Linked DNA regions of Homo sapiens. The protein of the gene in region 2 interacts with the protein of the main gene of each other region in a pairwise test. Each region holds a gene or a part of one and is shown on either strand. Other genes may lie near its edges.

The links.
Region 1: the proteins of SMYD1 (region 2) and HOMEZ interact in binary tests that used the Homo sapiens proteins (3 or more experiments, as listed by UniProt).
Region 3: the proteins of SMYD1 (region 2) and KIF16B interact in binary tests that used the Homo sapiens proteins (3 or more experiments, as listed by UniProt).

Annotation. Positions count from the first base shown.
Region 1 is NC_000014.9:23,275,983-23,283,148, forward strand, and holds part of HOMEZ (homeobox and leucine zipper protein Homez), read right to left. Parts: intron 1,206-7,166; coding exon 1-1,205. UniProt on the Homo sapiens protein: May function as a transcriptional regulator.
Region 2 is NC_000002.12:88,105,825-88,112,824, reverse strand, and holds part of SMYD1 (histone-lysine N-methyltransferase SMYD1), read right to left. Parts: intron 6,501-7,000; coding exon 6,337-6,500; intron 4,455-6,336; coding exon 4,286-4,454; intron 2,472-4,285; coding exon 2,313-2,471; 3' UTR 1-2,312. UniProt on the Homo sapiens protein: Methylates histone H3 at 'Lys-4' (H3K4me), seems able to perform both mono-, di-, and trimethylation. Acts as a transcriptional repressor. Essential for cardiomyocyte differentiation and cardiac morphogenesis.
Region 3 is NC_000020.11:16,374,307-16,381,472, forward strand, and holds part of KIF16B (kinesin-like protein KIF16B), read right to left. Parts: intron 5,858-7,166; coding exon 4,499-5,857; intron 104-4,498; coding exon 1-103. UniProt on the Homo sapiens protein: Plus end-directed microtubule-dependent motor protein involved in endosome transport and receptor recycling and degradation.

The DNA.
Region 1 (7,166 bases), on a different chromosome or scaffold from region 2:
TTGCCCATGCTTCAAGGCATAGCGTGTGTCACCAAACCACTGAATGATCTCAGGCCGAGGTAAACCAGTGATCTGTTCTAACTTTTGGTAATCCTCACGCCGTGCCCACTGGCACTGTAAAAAAAAGGATTTAAGGATAGCCAGCTGCTCTTTGGTTTTGCGCTTGGTCTTTCGCTGGCGTTGCATATCTGGGGAAAGGTACTCTGTGGGGCCAACTCTACCTGGTACTGAGTTATGCCGTAGCCCTTGGGGCCAGGCTGGTTCCAGATGTGGGGGTAATGCCTGTTCACTGGGTGACACTGACTGTGGGACACAGCCTAGTGGCTGGAGGGGTTTAGAGGCGGCAGTAGCTCCATTAGCCAGTACCTGGAAAGAAGAAGAGGTAGAGGAAGAAGAGGGAGTAACACTAGATGCTGACTCCTCCTTACAACTACTGGCAATTAATGCAATTGGTGGGGGTTTATCCCGAGCTTGTGGCTGGGGGACGGTTGTGGAGTGGTTCCAGGAAGCAGTACCTATGCCATGTGACTGGTTGGGACCCCTGCCTGCCTGCTCCTTTGAGAGGCCACTGCTTTGAAGATGTTGCCAAAAATCTGATTGGTAGGGGAATGCTCCACTGCCAGGTGTCATCAGGGACTCCTTTAATTTCTGGTGACTCTGTGGCAGTGGTGGCATCTGAGAGGGCTCCTCAGGCTCTACCTTCAATCCTTTCGTCTGGGTAGGCTTGCTAAGAGTTGGAGGACCTATTCCAATACCAACTTGCTCTGGAGCTGGCACTGGAGGAGGAGGCACCTCCTCTGGGGGCCGTCCCGCATGATGAGTAAAAGAGAGAAGGGATTTGAAATGGAGTTGGTCCCGACGGTAGACTACTCGGGCTCGAGTCTCTTCTATTTCTTCAGATGACCAGCTAATACCACAGCGGAGGCGCTGGGCCATAAACCAAGTCTTGACTTTCTCCATCTGCAACCCATAACGTAGGCAGAGAAGGGCAATGTCTGCTAGGCTGGGATAGGGAAAGTAGCTGAAGGTTTTGAGCAGGTGTTCATTGCTGTCTAGCTCACTGGTCTGGGCTGCTTGCGTCCACACAAGCTGTAGCTCCTCAGAGATTGGAGGGAGGCAGATGAGCCCCGCTGGTGAACTACTGAGACCGCTGGCCTCTTTATTAGGAGGCATGGTGCCTTCTGATTTGTGCCCTTCAGAGATAGCTGCAATAAGAAGACAAACAGCTCAATCACTGGGTCTCCTCTTCTGACACACTGCTCAATTTCTACCAAACTAACTGCTGGACACCAGAACAATTTAATCTGTATTTGTATCATGTTGTATTGCTTTTTAAGTGCCTCAACAATTTCTTATTTAATTTTCATAAACTTAAGTCATCAGACCCTGCTTTAATTCCCATTTTCTGTGGACCAAAGTCCATAGACGTTAAATTACCCCAAGCCACATGACTGGTGAGTGTTGTTCCAAGAAAAAAATCTGTCTTTAAAGCCAGCCATGGTGGCTCATGCCTGTAATCCCAGCACTTCGGGAGGCCGAGGTGGGAGGATTGCTTGAGCCCAGAGCTTTGATACCAGCCTGGGCAACACAGTGAGACTACAAAAAATTTAAAAATCAGCTGGGCATGGTGGTTCGTGCCTGTCGTCCCAACTACTTGGGAGGCTGAGGCAGGAGGACTGCTTGAGCCTGAGAGGTTGAGGCTGCAGTGAGCTATGATTGCACCACTGCACTCCAGCCTGGGTGATAGAGTGAGACCCTATCAAAAAAAAAAAAAATCTGTCTTTAGAAGTTAAGAAGGAAAACTGATCCTGATATAGCTTTTTTTAGTGTGTATGTGTGTGTCTGTGTGTGTGTGCGTGTGTTTTGAGATGGAGTCTCACTCTCTCGCCCAGGCTGGAGTGCAGTGGCATGATCTTGGCTCACTGCAACCTCCACCTCCCAGGTTCAAGCAATTCTCTACCTCAGCCTCCCGAGTAGCTGGGATTACAGGTGCCCGCCACCACGCCCGGCTACTTTTTGTATTTTTAGTAGAGATGGGGTTTCACCGTCTTGGCCAGGCTGGTCTTGAACTCCTGACCTCGTGATCCACCTGCCTCTGGCCTCCCAAAGCTGGAATTACAGGCATGAGTCACCACACCCAGCTGGTGGGTTGTTTTTTTTTAAAGAGATAATATTGCTCTGTCACCCAGGCCACCCAGGCTGGAGTGCAGTGGCACCATCATAGCTCTGATACAGCCTTTATCTTTCCTATTCAAACCCACTTCTAGAAGCTATCCACCAACTCTCACCTTCTAAATTCATGGAACAAGAATCACATAGTGAAGACTCAACCACAAAAACAAGAGGAGCAATAATTTCAACTGGTTTGTGTGTGTGTGCATTTTTGTTTTTGTTTTTTCAAGAGACAGGGTCTCACTCTGTTGCCTAGGCTGGAGTGCAGTGGCATGATCATGGCTCATTGCAGCTTTGAACTCTTAGGCTCAAGCAATCCTCCCACCTCAGCCTCCCAAGTAGCTAGGACTACAGGTACATGCAGCCATATCCGGCTAATTTTAAAATTTTTTGTAGACAGGGTCTCACTATGTGGCCTAGGCTGGTCTCAAACTCCTAGCCTCAAGTGATCCTCCCACCTCAGCCTCCCAAACTGCTGAGATTACTGGAGTGAGCCACTGTACCCGGCCCTCAGAATTGTTTGTTTGTTTGTTTGTTTTTGAGCAGGATCTTGCTCTGTTGCCTAGACTGGAGTAGAGTGGCATGATCTCAGCTTACTGCAGCCTCCGCCTCCTGGGTTCAAGTGATTCTTGTGCCTCAGCCTCCTGAATAGCTGGGACTACAGGCGTGTGCCACCATGCCCTGCTACATTTTGTATTTTTAGTAGAGACGAGGTTTTACCATGTTAACCAGGCTGGTCCCGAACTCCTGACCTCAAGTGATCCACCGGCCTCGGCCTCCCAAAGTGCTGGGATTACAGGCGTGAGCCACGGCGCCTGGCCAGAATTGTTAATAACTATTTTTTTTTTTGAGACAGAGTCTTTCTGTCACCCAGGCTGGAGTGCAGTGGCGTGATCTTGGCTCACTGCAACCTCCACCTCCCGGGTTCAAGTGATTCTCCTGCCTCAGCCTCCTGAGTAGCTGGAATTACAAGCGTGCACCATGATGCCCAGCTAATTTTTGTACTTTTAGTAGAGACGAAGTTTCACTATTGTTATAAATAAAGTTTCGGTGCCACAAAAGAAATAGCAATCGAATATAAAATTTTCTTTTTTTTTTCTTCTCAGTAGGGCAATTTACTTCTATAGAAGGGTGCGCCCTCATAGATGGAGCAGTGGTGAGCACACACCTGGACAAAAGAGGGGAAGAAGTTCTTATTCCTGACACAGGTGGCCCCTGCCGCTGTCATTCCCATATTGGCTAGGGTTAGACCGCACAGGCTAAACTAATTCCGATTGGCTAATTTAAAGAGAGTGACCGGGTGAGTGGTTTGGTGGGGAAAATGGTTATGGCAGAGCAGGAAATCGGAAGGAGTCAGGGTGGAGAATGAGTCAGGGCAGAGCAGGTAATCGGAATGAGTCAGGGTGGAGCAGGTGATCGAAAAAGGTTGCTTTACAAGGAAGTTAAGTTTAAAAGTAGAAGGCAAAGAATTGAACATACTGACATATTGATTCTTTGAAGAGAAATTTAGAACTCATATCTAATGCTATGTTGGCCAGGCTGGTCTCGAACTCCTGACCTCAGGTGATCCACCTGCCTTGGCCTCCCAAAGTGCTGGGATTACAGGCATGAGCCACCGCGCCTGGCCACTATTTTTTTTTAGAGACAAGTTCTCGTTATGTTGCCCAGGCTGGCGTGCTATGCATAGGTGCAATCATAATGCACTACAGCCTCGAATTCCTGGGATCAAGTGACCCTCCTGCCTCAACCTCCTGAGTAGTTAGAACTACAGGTGCACAACATTGTTCCTGGCTTGTTACTAACTCTTTGGCTGCTAACAATTTATATTTAGAATGTGGATCAACAGATTGGGAATACAACTGATGAATATCTGGAAGGTAGGACAGCACTGTCCTCTGCCCAGCCCCCCTTTTTTCTTTCCCTTCTTGGTGGTGGAGTGTTGGGGGAAGGCGACTGACAGTACCTTTAAGCCCTAAGCCCAAACCTGATAGCTTTATTTTTTCCATCTCTTGGTTGGATGAGAGACATGGGTCAGAGATTGGGGATAAATGAGGCTCACTCCCCTAACCCTTTAGGTCATGTGAAAATAGAGAGGGGAATGTTTCCTCCTCCAAGTCAGCCTTGGAACAAAGGTTATCCCCTCCCCCAGCCTTTGTCTCTTCCAACAGCTCAGCTTCTCCCCAGGGAGCCCAGAAAGCTCCCTCAGTCACTAACAGCCCCCTCCACACAGGGCAGAAGGTCTCCTGAGCTTAACTTTTCAGCCCAGCTTTCTCCTCAAGACCAGGTGGACAGGCTCATTATAAATTGTAACCAGCTCCTGCAAGCTACCCAGCAGCACCACTGCTCCCAGGATTATGGGTATGGGGACTGCAGGAATAGCCTTTGACTGTGCTGCTTTCCTGAAATAACTGCTCAAGTTATTTCCCAGAATATTCTGTTGACAATTTTTAACTCAGCTCCCTGTGTGGGCACTAGAGACCCTTTAACACATCCATCACCCTTTACTCTTAGGGGAATCACATCTGTTATATTTTATTTTTATTTTTATATTTTTATTTTTATTTTATTTTATTTTATTTTATTTTATTATTTTATTTTATTTTATTTTATTTTATTTTATTTTATTTTATTTTATTTGGAGACGGAGTCTTGCTCTGTCGCCAGGCTGGAGTGCAGTGGCACGATCTTGGCTCACTGCAACCTCCGCCTCCTGGGTTCAAGTGATTCCCTTGCCTCAGCCTCCTGAGTAGCTAGGACTACAGGCGCACGCCACCACACCTGGCTTTTTTGTATTTTAGTAGAGACAGGATTTCACCATGTTGGCCAGGATGGTCTTGATCTCCTGACCTCGTCATCTGCCTGCCTCAGCCTCCCAAAGTGCTGGGATTTCAGGCGTGAAACACCGGGCCCAGCCTTCTATCTGTGTTTTTAAGTATTACTCCTGATCTGCTAAGGACAGGACAGGATTCCTATGTAAATGCTACACGATGAATTGCAAAAATAAACCTCAAGTCCATACATTTAGAGCAATGTGATCGCAGGGATTTTACACCATGATTTTTAAAATTCAGAAGCATTTTAATACGTGTCACCATTTCCTTTTAACAAGCAAATCTAACTAACTGAGGCCACGCAGACCCTGAAAGCAATACTGCTTGAAGAGCCCCTTAAGAGGGTCAATGGAGGCAGCATGGCATGACGGGTAGAAATATGAATTCTTCAATAAGGCCAACCTCTGAGTTTGAATCCCGGTTCTGCCACTTATCAGCTATGTGATCTCAGGCAAGTTACTTAACTTACATGAGCCTGGTTTCCTCCTATGTAACAAAGTGAAGACAGTGCAGAGAGTACGTAAGAGTACTACGTGCTAGGTGTTATGCATAGGCAGGGCATAGAGCAAATGTTAGGGGATGGATGTCCGGGGTGAGACAAATTAATGCAACTCCACTTCCTAGAATGCTGCTTGTCCTCAGGCAGTTATTTAACTTCTCTAAGTCTTAGTTTCTCATGAGAAAAAAAGCACCTTGGGCCGAGCGCAGTGGCTCATGCCTGTAATGCCAACACCTTGGGAGGCCAAGGTGGGCAGATGGTTTGAGCCCAGGAGTTTGAGGCCAGCCTGGGCAACATGGTGAAACTGTCTCTACAAATAATAATAATAATAATAATAATAATAATAATAATAATACAAAATATTAGCTGGGCATGGTGGCGCAACTGTAGTCCTAGCTACTCGGGAGGCTGAGGTGGGAGGATTGCTTGAGCCTGGGAGGTGGAGGTTGCAGTGAGTCGAGATTGTGCACTGCACCACAGCCTGGGTGACAGAGACCCTGTCTCAAAAAGAGAAGAAAAAAGCAAAAAAGCACCTACCCAGCAAGTTTATGACTAAATGAAAAAGTGCACTTGACATTATAACTAGAACAAAGTAAGGGCTCAATAAATAGCAGCTTTTATCATGACTTCAACTTCATGGAGGTGATTTTGATGTGAAGTAATGCTCCTCCTAGACAATGGGGTAACTGGGACAAAGACTGAATCATTTAACATTCACTGTTTTCAATCTATTTTTGCAGAGCCCTAATTCTAGTTAGCGATGAGGAAACCAGTGTATCTGTGATTCTATACTTTTACATTTTGGGGTTTAAATACAATTTCAGAATGTATTTGCCACTTAAAAAAATGTATGAAAACCAGTGCTTTAGAACTGCATCCATAATTTGGATCCTTTGTGATCGGTGTGTCAGTTGCCTATGTGATAGTTCCACCTTTCGCCTTCCAGGTTCATCCAGGACACAGCTGAAATGGCCTGGGAGGCACTGCTTGCATGGCCAGGTGCTAAACTACCATTTACAAATTGTGGCCCACCGAGAACACCACCAAATCCAAGCTGGAGAACACTTTATGATGGCAATGCTTGACGTCTACTTAACCTCATTTGTGTCCTATTATATAAAGACACAATAACACTTTAGAGATAAGGAAAATAAAGCATAAGGAACAAAGCAGTCCAGTGTGAGGATGAATACTGCCAGATGGGAATATAAGGCAGGCACATTTATAAGTATTAAAAGCTGTAAGGAAGCATTTTACTTTCGTTTAGGTGGCTTGATGTCCTTCACATTCTCGGCATCAGCTTGATATTTCAGTGTAACATACAGTACTGCAAACAACATATTTGGTGTACTATATGCATTCAGTTTTCACTTACACAAAACACCAGTTATGGAACACTTCCTGAAACAGAATGGTGGCTTAAATCAAGGCACAGCTGTATAGCTGGTACTTCCCTGGAAGAATCTGGCTTTGAACTAAGAGAAAACCACAACCAGAATGGCTCATGAGAATTATAACAGGTAGGGTAGACCCTATAGTAATCAAAATCATAATAAAGACACTAGAGTATCTTGTGTTCTTGTGTGTCCATTTTGGATTGAGTAGAAAAAGAAGAGAATCAAAAGCTGAAGTGAGGAGTCCTAGCGCAGAGGAGGTAGTGGTGG
Region 2 (7,000 bases):
GGACCAGCGAAGGAACCTGAGAAACTAGATCAGAAGATCATCACAGGGAAGTGGGTCACCAAAATCAATGGCTGGGAGTGATGATTGACATCGAAAGGCCAAATCACATAGGAACTAAAATGTACCCATTAGATTTGATCTTGGTAAGAGCCCTTTTAGTGAAGGAGTGGGAGTGGAAGTCAATCTGCAATGGATTCAAGAAGAAATGCAAAGTGAAGAAAGGCAGATGATAACTATACAACTAAAAAAAACTCAGTCATGAAGATTAAGATCCAAGAGTTCTCAGCATTTTTACTGATTGCACCTGAGAAGGCCAGTGGGGTGACAAATGTCAAGGATCCAGGATGGAGAAGCAATAATAGATGGAGCAAAGTCTGGGGGTCAAAGCAGGGGAAGGGATCCAGAGTACATTCCAAAGGGAAGAAGGACTTGCATTCCAGTGGTCTGAGAGGGAAGGAGGAGCACAGACACAGAACACAGTTTGTTAAAGACAACAAATATTAGAAAGATAGGATGGAAAAAAAGACTACGAATATGGGGAAATGACCAGGGGCTTAGCAGATAACAATGACAAAGAAGGGAAAAAGGTTTGGGGGAGACATTTTATATGAAGGTAAAAGAGTGATAATTTGAACTAGCCAGTTAGATCCCTGGGAGAAAGTTAGTGCCGTCCCTAAGCCTGTGATGTGGGGGCTTGAAAGACTATCAGTCTTCTTGTAAAACCTTCCAGAAAGGAAATTCTTCAAACAAGACCTAAGTGTCAGATACAAGTATTTTGCAAAAGTGTGGCCCATTTGCAGAGTTTTCAGCCACTGGGTAGTGCTCAGAGGGACACAGCAGGTCATCATGTGGTGAGGATGGAGAAGCTAACATTTAGGCAGAGATAACAAACGTGGGACCTGGTGGGATCAATTTACTTCAAGATGTGGGGTACAGCTCTGAGGTCAATGGTAGTCCTGGGTTGTGTAGAAGTCTTGGTGACACCCCAAACTGAAGGGATCTTTTCCAGGATCTCCCAAAACATTGGTGAGAAATTTGGGGTCTCAGTAGATAACAGGATAACAGGCTAATCTTGGGACTGGTTGATTCTCAAGACCCTCATTTCTTAGATGGAAATCACAACAGCCTTCCAGGAGATCGGGATAAATTGGCCACACCTCTGAACAGGGTCTAACCCAGGTGTACAAGAATCCAGATTCAAATGTTCTTTCTGGTGAGAAGAGCAGAAGCCCCCAGGGCATGACAGAAAAAGAAACTCAACAAGGGAAGTAATAATTATTCAGTATTGAGAATGGAGCTTCATGGGGGCCCATGATAGAGTCTAAGCTGGTAAAGACCACCCAGGCACATGTAACCAAATAAAGCCCCCAAGGGCCAATTCTGCAGGGCCCATGATCAACAGGTATGTGTGTTTCCAAGATTCTCTCTCAGCTTCACTTTGAAAATATTTTTTAAATCCTACTAGGCAAATAGCCAGAAAAATATCAGACATTATCTAAAATCACAGGGAACCACAAGGCTTGGTAATAAGGGTGATAGAGGGACTTATTCCCTCTCTGTGTGTTCTAGAAATATTTCTAGAATTCTAGTTGGAACCCAGACTTTTTTTCCCTGGACTTTAAGACCTCAGTTGGTTTGGGCAAGGCCCCCAGCCAGCTCTTTCGACATATGCACCATTCTGAAGTGGTTTCAGGTCTCTGAGTAGAGCCTACGTGGCCCAAACACAGCCCCTTCTTCAAAACTCCACACCAACCACACAGTATCACATATCCTGCTCAGCCAATTGTGTCTACTGCAGACCACAGGTGAGACCAGCAGCCCCAGAGACACCTGCACAGATGGGTGAGCAGCCACCTGAGACTCCAGGCACCTGCTACCCTCAACTCAGATGTCATACTCTCTGTGATACCCCCACTGCACACACACACATCACACACCAGACACATTCCCTCCTCTGCACCCTCCTCCATATAGTTTATAATTGCATTTATTATTACAGTGTGCTTTAAATGTTTCTCTACATTTTGCTTCCCCACCCAACGACATTTGGAGCTCCTTTATTGGGTTCTAGGGCCTATCATCCAATAATATTTGTAGGAGGAGTTGATCTGGGCTGGGCTAGAGTTAACTTGAATTGAATAGACTTGAATTGAGCCAAAATGGCTCTGGGAAACATAGGGCAGTAAATTCTCACAGCAACAATGTTAAGCATTACCTCAACTTCCTCATTAGGGGTCTCCCGAGAGACCCACCACCTCCAGAGTCTCTCCCTAGCTCCCCAGCCACATCGCCCCTCCTCCACTGGGCAGTCCTCATTGCTTCTTGTGGAACAGAGCTGGGGATGGCTCATTGCTGGGCTCGGCCATGACCTGCATGGGCTGGTTGTTCAGGGCAGCCTCGCGCATCTTGTAGTACATGAATTCGTTCTGGCGGAACATGCGTAGCTCCATCTCCGTCTGCACCCGCATGGCCTGTGGGACACAGATACACCGTAAACAGTGATAGCAAGCCCCTAGGACATGCTGGTCTCTGATATACCTTGGGGTAAATTATTTCCAGCCACGGAGATTCAACTCTACCCCCTCAGAATACACACACACACACACACACACACACACACACACTCATTCATCAAGGGCCTAATGTCCTGGCAGTGGGCCCACTTTGTCAGGGAGAGGGAGTCAGAACCCTGAGAGAGTAGCTGAAGGAACCGTTCTCAGAAAAGAATGCTTGTTCCCAGGAACTGCCCAGTGGGGACCTGGATTTGAACCCTGGCCCCTGCAGATACTAGTGTGGGACCTCAGGCAAGAGACATAATCGCTTCAGCCGTCAGTTTTCTCACCCATTTTGTGGCTTCATACCTTACCGTGGGTTGGGAAGATGACAGTGTGTGACACACAGAAGAGCCCTCATCCTCCCACATGTCCATTCAAGAAATACTTCTTAAGGGCCAGGCATTCAGAGGCCGAGGATACAGCTGTGAGTAAAATTGACAAAGGCTCTGCCTTTGACAGGCTCGGTACCCTAAACATAAAGCTAGTTAGTCCGCTTCTCTGCCCCTCACTTGGTCCTCCTGCCAATTTTAAGGGGCTAATATATTATTTCCATTTTATAGATGAGGAAACCTGGGATCTGAATAGTAAGAGGACATCCATGTCTGAGACCACGCCAGTCCTAAATGTCATAGTCATCCTACATTTTATAACACCAAAGTCTGTCCACCTTCCCTAGACTGTACTGTCTGAGGACAGCCCTGTCACTCTCAAATAAACCAGCTTTTCAAAGCACCAAGGACATCAGCAGCACCATTTGCCAGGCACTAAGTGCATTTCACACATTGACTCATGAACACGCATCACAACCCTATCCTTTCCCCCTATTTTACTGATGAGGAGACTGACAGCCATACATTCAATATTTGCAAAATCACACAACCAGAAAGCGGTGAAGCTGGAACTCAACCTGGAGGTCTGATTCCAGAGCCTGTGATCCCTAACTCCACTCCATGTTACACAGAATACTTTCTAATATAAATGGCTGTGTGCATGCACACACGCACACATGCACACCCCATTGTTTACGCTTCCTCAGTCCAGGCTTGGGGTGTTATGATTCAACAGACTCAGGCTTCAAGTCTTAGCTTTGCCATTAGCTCGCTATGTGACTATGGACAGATTGTCCTCCTTCCCTGGGCCTCAGTTTCCTCATGTGTGAAGCAAGGTGATATGGTTTGGATATCTGTCCCTTCCAAATCTCACATTGAAATGTGATCCCCAGTGTTGGAGGTGGGGCCTGGTAGACGTGCTTGAGTCATGGGAGCAGATCCCTCGTGAATTGCTTAGTGCCACCCACTTGGTAGGAGTGAGTTGTCGCTCTGAGTTCACACCAGATCTGCTTGTTGAAAAAAGCCTGGCACCTCTGCCTCTCTCTCTTGCTCCCTCTTTCATCAGGTGACACACTGGCTCCCTTTCCCTCCTGGCATGATTAGAAGCTTCCTGAGGCCCTCACCAGAAGCAGATGCCAGCACCACACTTCCTATACAGTCTGCAGAACCATGAACCAACATAAGCCTCTTTTCTTTATAAATTACCCAGTCTCAGGTATTCATTTAGGGTAACATGAACAGTCTAACACACAAGGGTAGTGGGCTAAAGCGTTTCTGAGTTCCCTTTTGTCTAGCTGGGAGTATGTGGACTTTTCTAAAGCAGAGTCCACCTGAACTCACACTCCCATCCTCAGAAAGCTCAGGCCAGGAAGGGAACACCAGCCTCAAGACGCTACTTGCCTCTAAGTCCTTAGTGATGGGGTGGGAGGGTCCGTGTGTCACCAGGAGAATGGCATAGGCTTTGCAGATCATCCCGTGCCCCACCTCAATGTTACCAGCATGCCAGTTGGTCAGCCCTGCCCGCATCACGGCCATGCCCAGTTGGGCATTGTTGGGGTGGTAGAGCTTCCTGTGGGAGCATAGCAGATAATTATACATCATACCAATCACCCTTATATCTGCACTTAATTTAATAATGTATAAAGTGCCCTTGTTGATTAAGCCCATCTGTCTTCCCCTCAGCACTGCAAGGCTTCTGTAGCCGCCAAGGGGGAACTGAGGCACAGAGATATGGAACAAGTTGCCAAACATTCTACACAGTGAGGCTGTGACAGCTGAAACTCCGGCCTGGGCTGCCCAGCCAACTCCTTGTGAGAAAAAGGGACCAGGATCATACTTTCTGAGCTTGGGGACTCTAGCCAAGATGGCCGAATAGGAACAGCTCCAGTCTACAGCTCCCAGCGTCAGCGACGCAGAAGACGAATGATTTCTGCATTTTCAACTGAGGTACCAGGTTAATCTCACTGGGGATTGTCGGACAGTGGGTGCAGGACAGTGGGTGCAGCGCACCGAGTGTAAGCCGAAGCAGGGCAAGGCATGACCTCACCTGGGAAGTGCAAGGGGTCAGGGAATTCCCTTTCCAAACCAAGGAAAGGGGTGACAGACAGCACCTGGAAAATTGGGTCACTCCCACCCTAATACTGCGCTTTTCCAATGGTCTTAGCAAATGGTACCCCAGGAGATTATATCCCACGCCTCGCTCGGAGGGTCCTACACCCATGGAGCCTCGCTCATTGCTAGCACAGCAGTCTGAGATCAAACTGCAAGGCGGCAGCGAGGCTGGGGGAGGGGCGCCCGCCATTGCTGAGGCTTGAGTAGGTAAACAAAGCCGCTGGGAAGCTCGAACTGGGAGGAGCCCACTGCAGCTCAAGGAGGCCTCCCTGCCTCTGTAGACTCCATATTATCTGAGCTTGAGCACAGGAAGCTCACAGCATTTGGGAGTACCTCAGACGTCTCCCCAAAAAGTGGTAGGAAGGTCAAGGGAGAAAAAAATAATTTAAATGTCCTTTTTGAGACAGCATTGTATTTTCACCTGGTTGGCACCCTTTTGCAGGGCTTCCTTAGCATGTTGTACAGTTTATCTACATTTTGTTTATGACTAACATCCTCTCAAAGAAATGAACGTGTGTCAACTTATTTGGCCAGAAACACAAATTTGCATGACAACATAAACACAGAAAGCAAGAGAGGGTATTGGCAGATGGAAGGCAAGGGAATTGAATTTTACAATTTTTTTTTTTTGAGACAGTCTTGCTCTGTCGCCCAGGCTGGAGTGCAGTGGCGCAGTCTAGGCTCACTGCAAGCTCCGCCTCCCAGGTTCACGCCATTCTCCTGCCTCAGCCTCCCAAGTAGCTGGGACTACAGGTGCCCTCCACCATGCCTGACTAATTTTTTGTATTTTTTAATAGAGACGGGGTTTCACCATGTTAGCCGGGATGGTCTCTATCTCCCCACCTCGTGATCCTCCCGCCTCGGCCTCCCAAAATGCTGGGATTACAGGCGTGAGCCACCGCGCCTGGCCAGAATTTTACAATTTTTAAGCAAAGTGATTGATGGCTCTTTTAAAAATAAATAAATAAATAAATAAAAGCTCCTAGACTTGCCTGTGTTGATTACAGGGTGGAGGGCAGGGTCCAATCACTTAAAATCAAGCTGGGGTTAGCCTGAAGGAAGTCAAAAGCAGAAGATGCCACCCAAGTGATAGATGTGCTGGAGAATTTGGGAAAGACCAGGGATGACAAATAGGTTTCATCTCAAGCACAAACTCTGATTGGTCATTAACACTGGAGCACCATGATAAAAAGACTCAGTCAAAAAGAGAACCATGATGGATTACTGACGCCTGCTGTGGGTATAGGAGGGAGAGGCACCAGTAAATGTGCCATCTATTTGCCATCCCTGGAATACACACACTTCCAGGAGACTATCTGAGACCTAGAATCGTCACCTACATATAGCCGTCCACCATCCTCCTGGCATAGAACGAGGCCTCCTCAAAGGCCTGGAGGTAGGAAAGGACCTCCGAAACAATGCTCAGCATCCGCAGCATGTAGATGTTGGTGTCAGCAAACACTGGCTCCTGCTTCTCCAGGCACTCCCGGCATAATTTCACAACCTAGAGTGAGACAGAGGCCCTGCCCATTACCATTGCACCAGAGCACACGTTTAATTCACATACGCGACCATCATGGTGATACCAGACAATCATTCTTTTTAAGACTGGGGCAATTGCTGACAGAGGTGGGAAAGCACAGGTTTGGGGTATGAATTGCAAAGTGGTCCTGTTGGCTAAGGTGTAAGAATGGGAAGGGTAATGGTGTGAGACATGGCAGATGCAGCACAGCGAGGAGTTTCCAAAATCAATAGGTAGCAGGAAGCTATGAAAGCTATACATACACACACACACAAACACACACATATATGTACAGTCAGATCTGTATATGCACAAGTTCCACATCCATGGATTCAACCCACTGCAGGTCAAATATATATATATATTTCGAGACAAGAGTCTCACTCCATTGCCCAGGCTGAAGTGCAGTGGCTCAGTCTCAGCTCACTGCAACCTCCCCGTCTTAGCTTCAAGCGATTCTCCTGCCTCAGTCTCCTGAGTAG
Region 3 (7,166 bases), on a different chromosome or scaffold from region 2:
GCTGGAAGAAGCCACCTTCCCTTCCAGGGTCCCATGATGATCTTTTTGAACACCATCGACCTCATAAATCTTCTGTTTCAGCTGCTGGATTTCATATTCTAACCTACACAGATAGGAGCCACATAATTCATTCATTAATAGTATTTCCCGAGCATCCTTACTGTGTGAGACATTGCTTTAGATAGCATGGGGGAACAAGATCTGTCCTCTGTGTGCAAAGAACTTTACCTTCTAGTAGAAAAGGTGCCACATACCCATAAGACAAGACATAAAGTGCCATGGGCCACAAGAAGGGTCCAGGACGAGCACTGCAGGCATCCAGAAGGTAGAGTAATTTTGACTACCAAGAGCAAAGATCTCTCCACTGTGCTCCAAGCAAGTCCTAGAGGTAGGTGTATAGGATTCTGAGGCCTCTAACTGCTGCTTCAAAAAGAGTTGGTTGTGGACTACACATCAGGGTTCTGGTAAATACTTACGTTTGATGAAAAAGATCTATGTTTTAAAGAGTTTTAAAAACCACCAATCTAGGAGAAATTTCATAGCCATGGCAGTTCTAAGTTGAGTCTCCAGAGGCCAGTGGGAATGTTGTCATTTGGAGATGACGGCAGAAGATTATCTAAGTGCAGAAAGCAATACGAGCAATGGGGCAAGGGCATGAAAACCAGGCATCCACTTTGGGCTAAGGCAGAGGGCATGGGAAGGGGAAGCAGAAAAGACAGGCCTAGGAAAGTAGGTTGAGTTCCATGAGAAACTAAAATAAACCATAAAATTAACCTCCAGTGATAAGTGATACATCTATATGAGGTCAAATGTGTGTAAGGTCATTCTCCCACCGGCCCAGGCATACTTGAATCCAGCCCCATCAGGCCAGAGGGCCAACCTTGCCAGTGAATTTGGCCCCAGGAAGCAGGAGACTGCAGTCCACTCACTGTGTGAGCTTGGGGAAGTTATTTAAACACGGGTCTCAATTTCTTCATGGATCAAATGAGAGCGTCAACTAATCTCCCTCAATTCCTTCAGCTCTAAAAATCAGAGATTCTGGCTTCAGATGCCAACACACCATGATGCTGTCAACCCTCTGGTGTCACCAGCAGCAATTTGACTGCTCTATCTTGAACATGAAAGCCAAGTTCTGAATTTTCAGAAATGGATCACAGGGTCATGAGGGTAAGCACTCATGGGACCCACACGAGGCTGTGCCCAGTTTAACTCAGCCCTTTCTGGGTTTATTGATTAGCAAGTACTTCTAGAGCATCAATTTGTGGAACACACAGTATTTTCAAAAGACAAGACATAAGCAAAAAAAAAAAAATGATGTCAGAGGCCTGGTGGTGGCCAAATAATTGGGGAGCAATATTAATAGGGTATCATCAATGGCCAAAAAAAAAAAAAAATGAGCTGGATGTAGGCAGGCAATTAGCAATGTTTACAGTTAAGAAAACTCCTGCTGGGGTTGTTAAGAATTGTCCTTCAGCACAGGGCCAATGGCCAGTGGAAAAGACTCCACAGAGCAAAGAAGGGTTTGAGAGGTATCCTGAAGTCTGAGTGAGATTTATATGGATGGCAAGGGACAAGCTGGCCTTCCCGTGTGGCAGATACATGGTCAGAAGACTAGAGGGCTAAGTGGATCAGAGATGGGTGATGAGATTGAGATCTGACTTGCAACTCTGCCACTTTCTAACTGTGTGACACTCATCCCCAGTGGTTATACAACCACTGCAGGCTTCAGCTTCCTCATGTGTAAACTGTAGACGATGGCACCCTTTATTGGAAGAGTAAATGACAATGCACACACAGCATTTAAAGCAGGATCTGAGGTACACAGAGTTATTCTTCATGGTTTTCATCATGACTATTATCATCGTCATTGTTAAAGGACTCTGACAAGAAAACAGGATTAAGTGTGAGTATTAACAACTTGCCTCTGTTATCCCTGCTATGGTGATGGGAGGTATTTCTAGTTGGGTTACCTGATCCATGTCAATGGGGCAGCTGGAATGAGCAGGTGGTAGGAAAAAAGGCAGGAAAATGGATTAAACCTGGTTCATAAAGCACTGAGAAGGCAATGGGAGAGCCAAGTTCAGGACACTGTTGTCCAGTCTGGTCCCACATGAATTTAATATTTCACACTTGTGGAATTTTACGAGGGGCCAAGTCAGGCTGCACGGTGAATCCTGGCTTAGCCGTGAGAACCCTGGGAGAAAATGAAGCACAACAGAAATTCCCATAGAAAGCTGCGGGGGTATCGCAGTCAGAGCAGAGAGCCCGGAATCCGTCGGCCTGAATTAGGACTTAGCTAAGTCTATTTCATCAAAACTCATGAAGCTAACAGCCCCCTTTACTTGGCTTCTGAAGGAACACTCCCATTGTGTAATCACTTCCGTGGAAACTGCAATACTGTGTCTGCTATTATACAGTATTAATACTAAATGGCCAGGTGACAAAAGCCAAGGACATCAAGCTAAAAGCTCATGCTGCATTCTTATTGCACACTACAGGCTACAAATTGAGAGTGTGCCCTCCACTACTTTAAAGTTCCTGGGGCTGGATCTTTGTCTAGCAATTTCATTTACATAACATACCTGCAATCATTTTTTTAAACCTCCAACCTATTTCTCTGAAATAACAGCATTAGGGTTTTTGATTGTTATTTTGTTGCTGTTTTGCCTGAGGGAACTACCAGACAGCGATGGTAAATGTAATCCATAGCATAAGCCAATCATTTGAATGGAGGTTGTCCTGAACTTTTCAGGCAATGTGATGGGTGAAGCTACAGTAACACTTCTGAGTAGGTCTTCCTTGTTATCAGCAACCAGCCCCATGCATCAGCTAAATGCCAAGGTGGGGTCTCCTGGCCAGTACACTGGACTTCTGTTGAAGCCCCCTTAGGAGGTGCTGTGGGTGGGGGGAGTACTGCGGAGAGGGCAAGGTTTCATCTCTCCAATCTGAGCTTCAGTTAAGATCTCAACTGAGCAGGGAGTGGTGGCTCATGACTATAATCCCGGCACTTTAGGAGGCTCAGGTGGGAGAACTGCTTGAACCTAGGAGTTTGAGACCAGACTGGGCAACACAGGGAAACCCCATCTCTAAAAAAATAAAATACATAAAATAAATAAATAAATAAATAAATAGCCAGGCATGGTAGTATGCACCTGGGGTCCCAGCCACTTGGGTGGCTGGGGCAGGAGGATTGCTTGAGCCCAGGAGTTTGAGGCTGCAGTGAGCTATGATCACACTACTGCACTCCAGCCTGGACCCAGAGCAAGACCCTGTGATCTCATCCATCCTCTTCTTGTACAAGTGGTGACACTGAGGCCCAGTGATGAAAGATCCTGCCCAAGGTAGGAACATGCTACCATCTTGATAGGAAGGGGCTGAACCAGGCCATAAATTCCTCTTGCAAGTCTCCAAATTGGGTGATGTTTGCATCACCCAGGTGGCTGTTGGCCTTTCTGTGAGTCTTGCCATCAAGTCTTCAAGGCTCCAGAAAAGGTGTCCTCAAATTCACATAATATGCATTTTGAGAACTTATGGTCTGGTAAGTATGGTGACAGAAAATAGGTGAAGGAAGATAAATATTCTTACCTTACAAGACAAGAGTGCTAATTTCCTAGTTTTATTTTTCACAACAACAAAAATACTATCAGTAAATCACCAAACATGTTCTAATATCCCACTGTGTTCAGAATTATCTGGAGTTTTGTTTGTTGGTTCGGTTGACTGTTTTATAATGCAGAGTCCTGAGGCCTTCTCTTAAATACTGTGACTCAATAGGGGTGGGAGAAGTATTGATTTTTTCATTCCCAACATGTTGCAGAAATCAGTAGCCTGTATGCAAACCATGAACCCAGGGATGATACTTATTTCAACAAGTGCTGGTCATGGAGAAGATGTGAAATCATTAGTAAGAAAGGGCAGGGAAGTAGAGATGGAAAGAGGTGAGGGAGGAGGGAAGAAAATAGGGAGAGAAGGAAAGAGACAGGGAGCAAGTCAGAGAGGGGCAAGGAGGGAAGGAAGAAAGGGGAGGGAGAGGAAAGAGAGAGGGCAAAGGAAGAGAAAGGAGGAGGAAATAGATGCAATGGAAGGGAGAGGAGGGAACTGAAGGGGAAGAAGAAAGGGGAAAGAGAGGGAGACAGGCAAGGGAGATAAGAAAGAAGGAGAAATCAAAGTGGAAACTTTCTAGTCTTGCATTTATCAAAATATTAAAACACGCACATTCCATAGGACAGTGGGATAATGTACATGGGCTTTGCTTTTGTTTGTGTGTTTTTCAACTCTAGGCTAACAATTCTAAAAGAAGGACACTAAGGAGAAATACAAGAAGTTTAGGAGTACTTTTCTCAGTTCTGGCAAATATAAGCATTTGCCTATGTATTAAAGAATATGAAGGCTAAAAGAATAAGTTAAAAAAAAAAAAGGATAAACACAACATGAGGAGTGAAAAATGAGCACTCATTTGGCACCCACTGTATGCCACACCCTTCCTTCCCAATCTCACCTCTCCTGGTCCTTCTCCAGGGCTTCCTGCTCAGCCTCCAGGCTAGCCTGGAGCCCTGACTGCTCTCTGCTGCCACTGTTCAGACTGGCAAGTTTCTGCCTCTGCTCTTCAATCTCCATGCCCAGGGTGGAGTGCCTCTGCAGCGCAGAATGTCTCCTCTCCAGCCTGGCCAGGGCCCGCTCCAGCGCCTCTCTCTGCTGCTTCTCTCTGGACTCCAAAATCTCCTTTTCCTTTTTCCTCACTTTTTCCTCCTGACGTGCAATGTTGGCAGTGAATTCAAAGGTGGCTTGGAGCTTTTGCAGCTGGTTTGCATTGGCCTGGTACTGTGCAAGCTGTTCTTCTTTTTCTTCCATTTCCTTTTCTACTTGATAAAGAGTGTTGTCTAAGCTGAGAGGGCCTCTGTCAAGAATTTCAAATGCTCTCTGCTTTTCTTCCAACAGAGTTGGCAAGTGATTCTGCAGGAGGTACTGTAGCTGGCGTTCTTTATATTGCAGCCTGTACTCCACTGGCTTTATTTTCTCGAAATCTTGAGGCACTTCCGTGACATCTGTGACACTCTCATCATGTTTTTCCAACAATCTAGATTCTTTGTCATGTTCACATTTTAAACACTCTAGGATCTCCTGTTCTTCTTGGACTTCTTTTTTCAGGATGTCTTTCTGCTGAACCAGGTCCTTCTCCAAGTTCACTAGCTTGACAAGCTGCCTTCTCTTGAATTCGAAGAAACGCAGTTGAGCCTTTTCTAACTCCTCGCCATCTTCATCCCCTCCGGCACGAGCCTCCTTCACCCGCAGGAGGGATTCCCGAATGCCTTCCAGGTCCCTCTTCTCCTCTTCCACCCACTGTACCTCCCCACGCCGCAGGAGCTGGATCATCTCCTGCTTCTCTCGGAGCTGCTCTTCCAGATGGGCCACGAGCATGACCTGCTCCTTCTCCTGCTCCTCTAGTCTCTTTTTTTCCAGTTCAAGCTTGGCATACTGTTCATCTTTTTCCTTTTGGAGCTGGTCCAGTTCTTGAAATATCTGAAACTTCTCAGCCTTCTCGTTGTTGTTGAGTTCTTTGAGTCGTTGGAGTTCTTCTTGGACGCGGAGAAAGGTCTCTTCTTCTTGTCTCTTCTTCTGCAGCTCGATTTCCTGCTGTTCCCTCAGCCTCTCCTCTTCAAATTTTTCCTTCTCCGCAAGTAAATCCTTTAGCTTGTTCTCGATGTGGAAGCTGCGGCGTTTGAGGCTCTCCTCCTGCTTGCGAATCTGGAGCTGCACGATTTCTGTCTCCTTGCGCTGGGTCTCCACCTCCTGCTGCATCCGCTCCAGTTCAGCCTTGTCTGATTTCTGCTTTTCCTCCATTTCTTCTATGAGTTTCCTGAAATGCAAAGCACTGACTGGTTGTTATCTGGTCATTGTTCAAATGTTGCTCTAACTTTACTGAAATGTTCTGAAAATGCACATACAACCAGGTCAAAGCCTCCATTAAAATAAAAAAAAGAAGAGTAACTGCTTTCCTTTAAATTTCCAGCAGCATCCTGTTTAATTTTTTTTATTTTTTAACTGTCCAACATATCACCTGCCTATTCTCCTGAAGTGGCTTCTGATATCATTTCTTTGTAGAGCATATAATCATAATGTGTTATGCATGATATAATTTTAAAAGGCCCCTGAGCTCAAAGAGAAAGAACCATGCCCAATTTAAATTAAATGTGAATAACTTTATTCAGCCCAATGACTAAAACTCAACAGAAGTTGTTACAAGACAACATTAAATAAAAATGCTTATGCTGTCCTCATCTCATTGGGGTCAAATATCAAAGTCATGATAATCGACAGTTCATTGTTCCAGCTAAAAAATACATACTATTTAGCATTTAATCACTAGTTTGGGACAAATGGTGATCACCAAATGGTCCAAAATGTTAGTTTATTAGTGCATAACACTGAAAACAACTGGAGCCTCCATTGGAATATACAAAATGCATAATTTTGCAGGCTGGTGGGGAGGTGACATGTTGTGTTTTCTGTTGGAGAACAAATGATCTCCACTGGGTACTGTACTGAAGTTTAGGGTTGGGATGGCCTCCAGAGGAAGAACACAGAGTTAGAGCAGGAATACTGGGCTTCCACCTCCTGACCCACCAAACGTCTATCTTGGATGATGCTGGAAACTAAGCCAGTTTATTTGTGACATTTAAACTCCAGGTCCTACTAAATAAACATTTACTTTGCAGATTTTCTATAGCCTTAGTTTTTACTCTAACTCTCATCTTTGGTCTACGTCTTGGCTGGTTAAATAGGACAGGAAAAACAGAAAAGGAGAAAATACAGTTTTATCAGGTAAAGAATTATTTCAGAACATATAAAGAACTGCCCAAATCAATTAAACAGCCATTTCTCCCTCCACCCTGCCCCCCCATACACAAAAGAAAAGTGAGCAAAGAATAAGAAAAGCAAATTATACATGGGGAAATACAAATGGCCAAACAATATCAGGAAAGATGTTTTAAAAGCAGGCAGGTAGAAGGAAGGCAAATTGTCATTCTTCAGGCTTTTTAAAAACTCAGGGGATATTATTAAGAGAAGATCTACTTTTGATTAAATTTAAATGAATACATTTTGGTGTATTAAATTTAATTGGTGTGTTAAATTTGCCTACTGACTCTATTTCCCATTTCTCATAA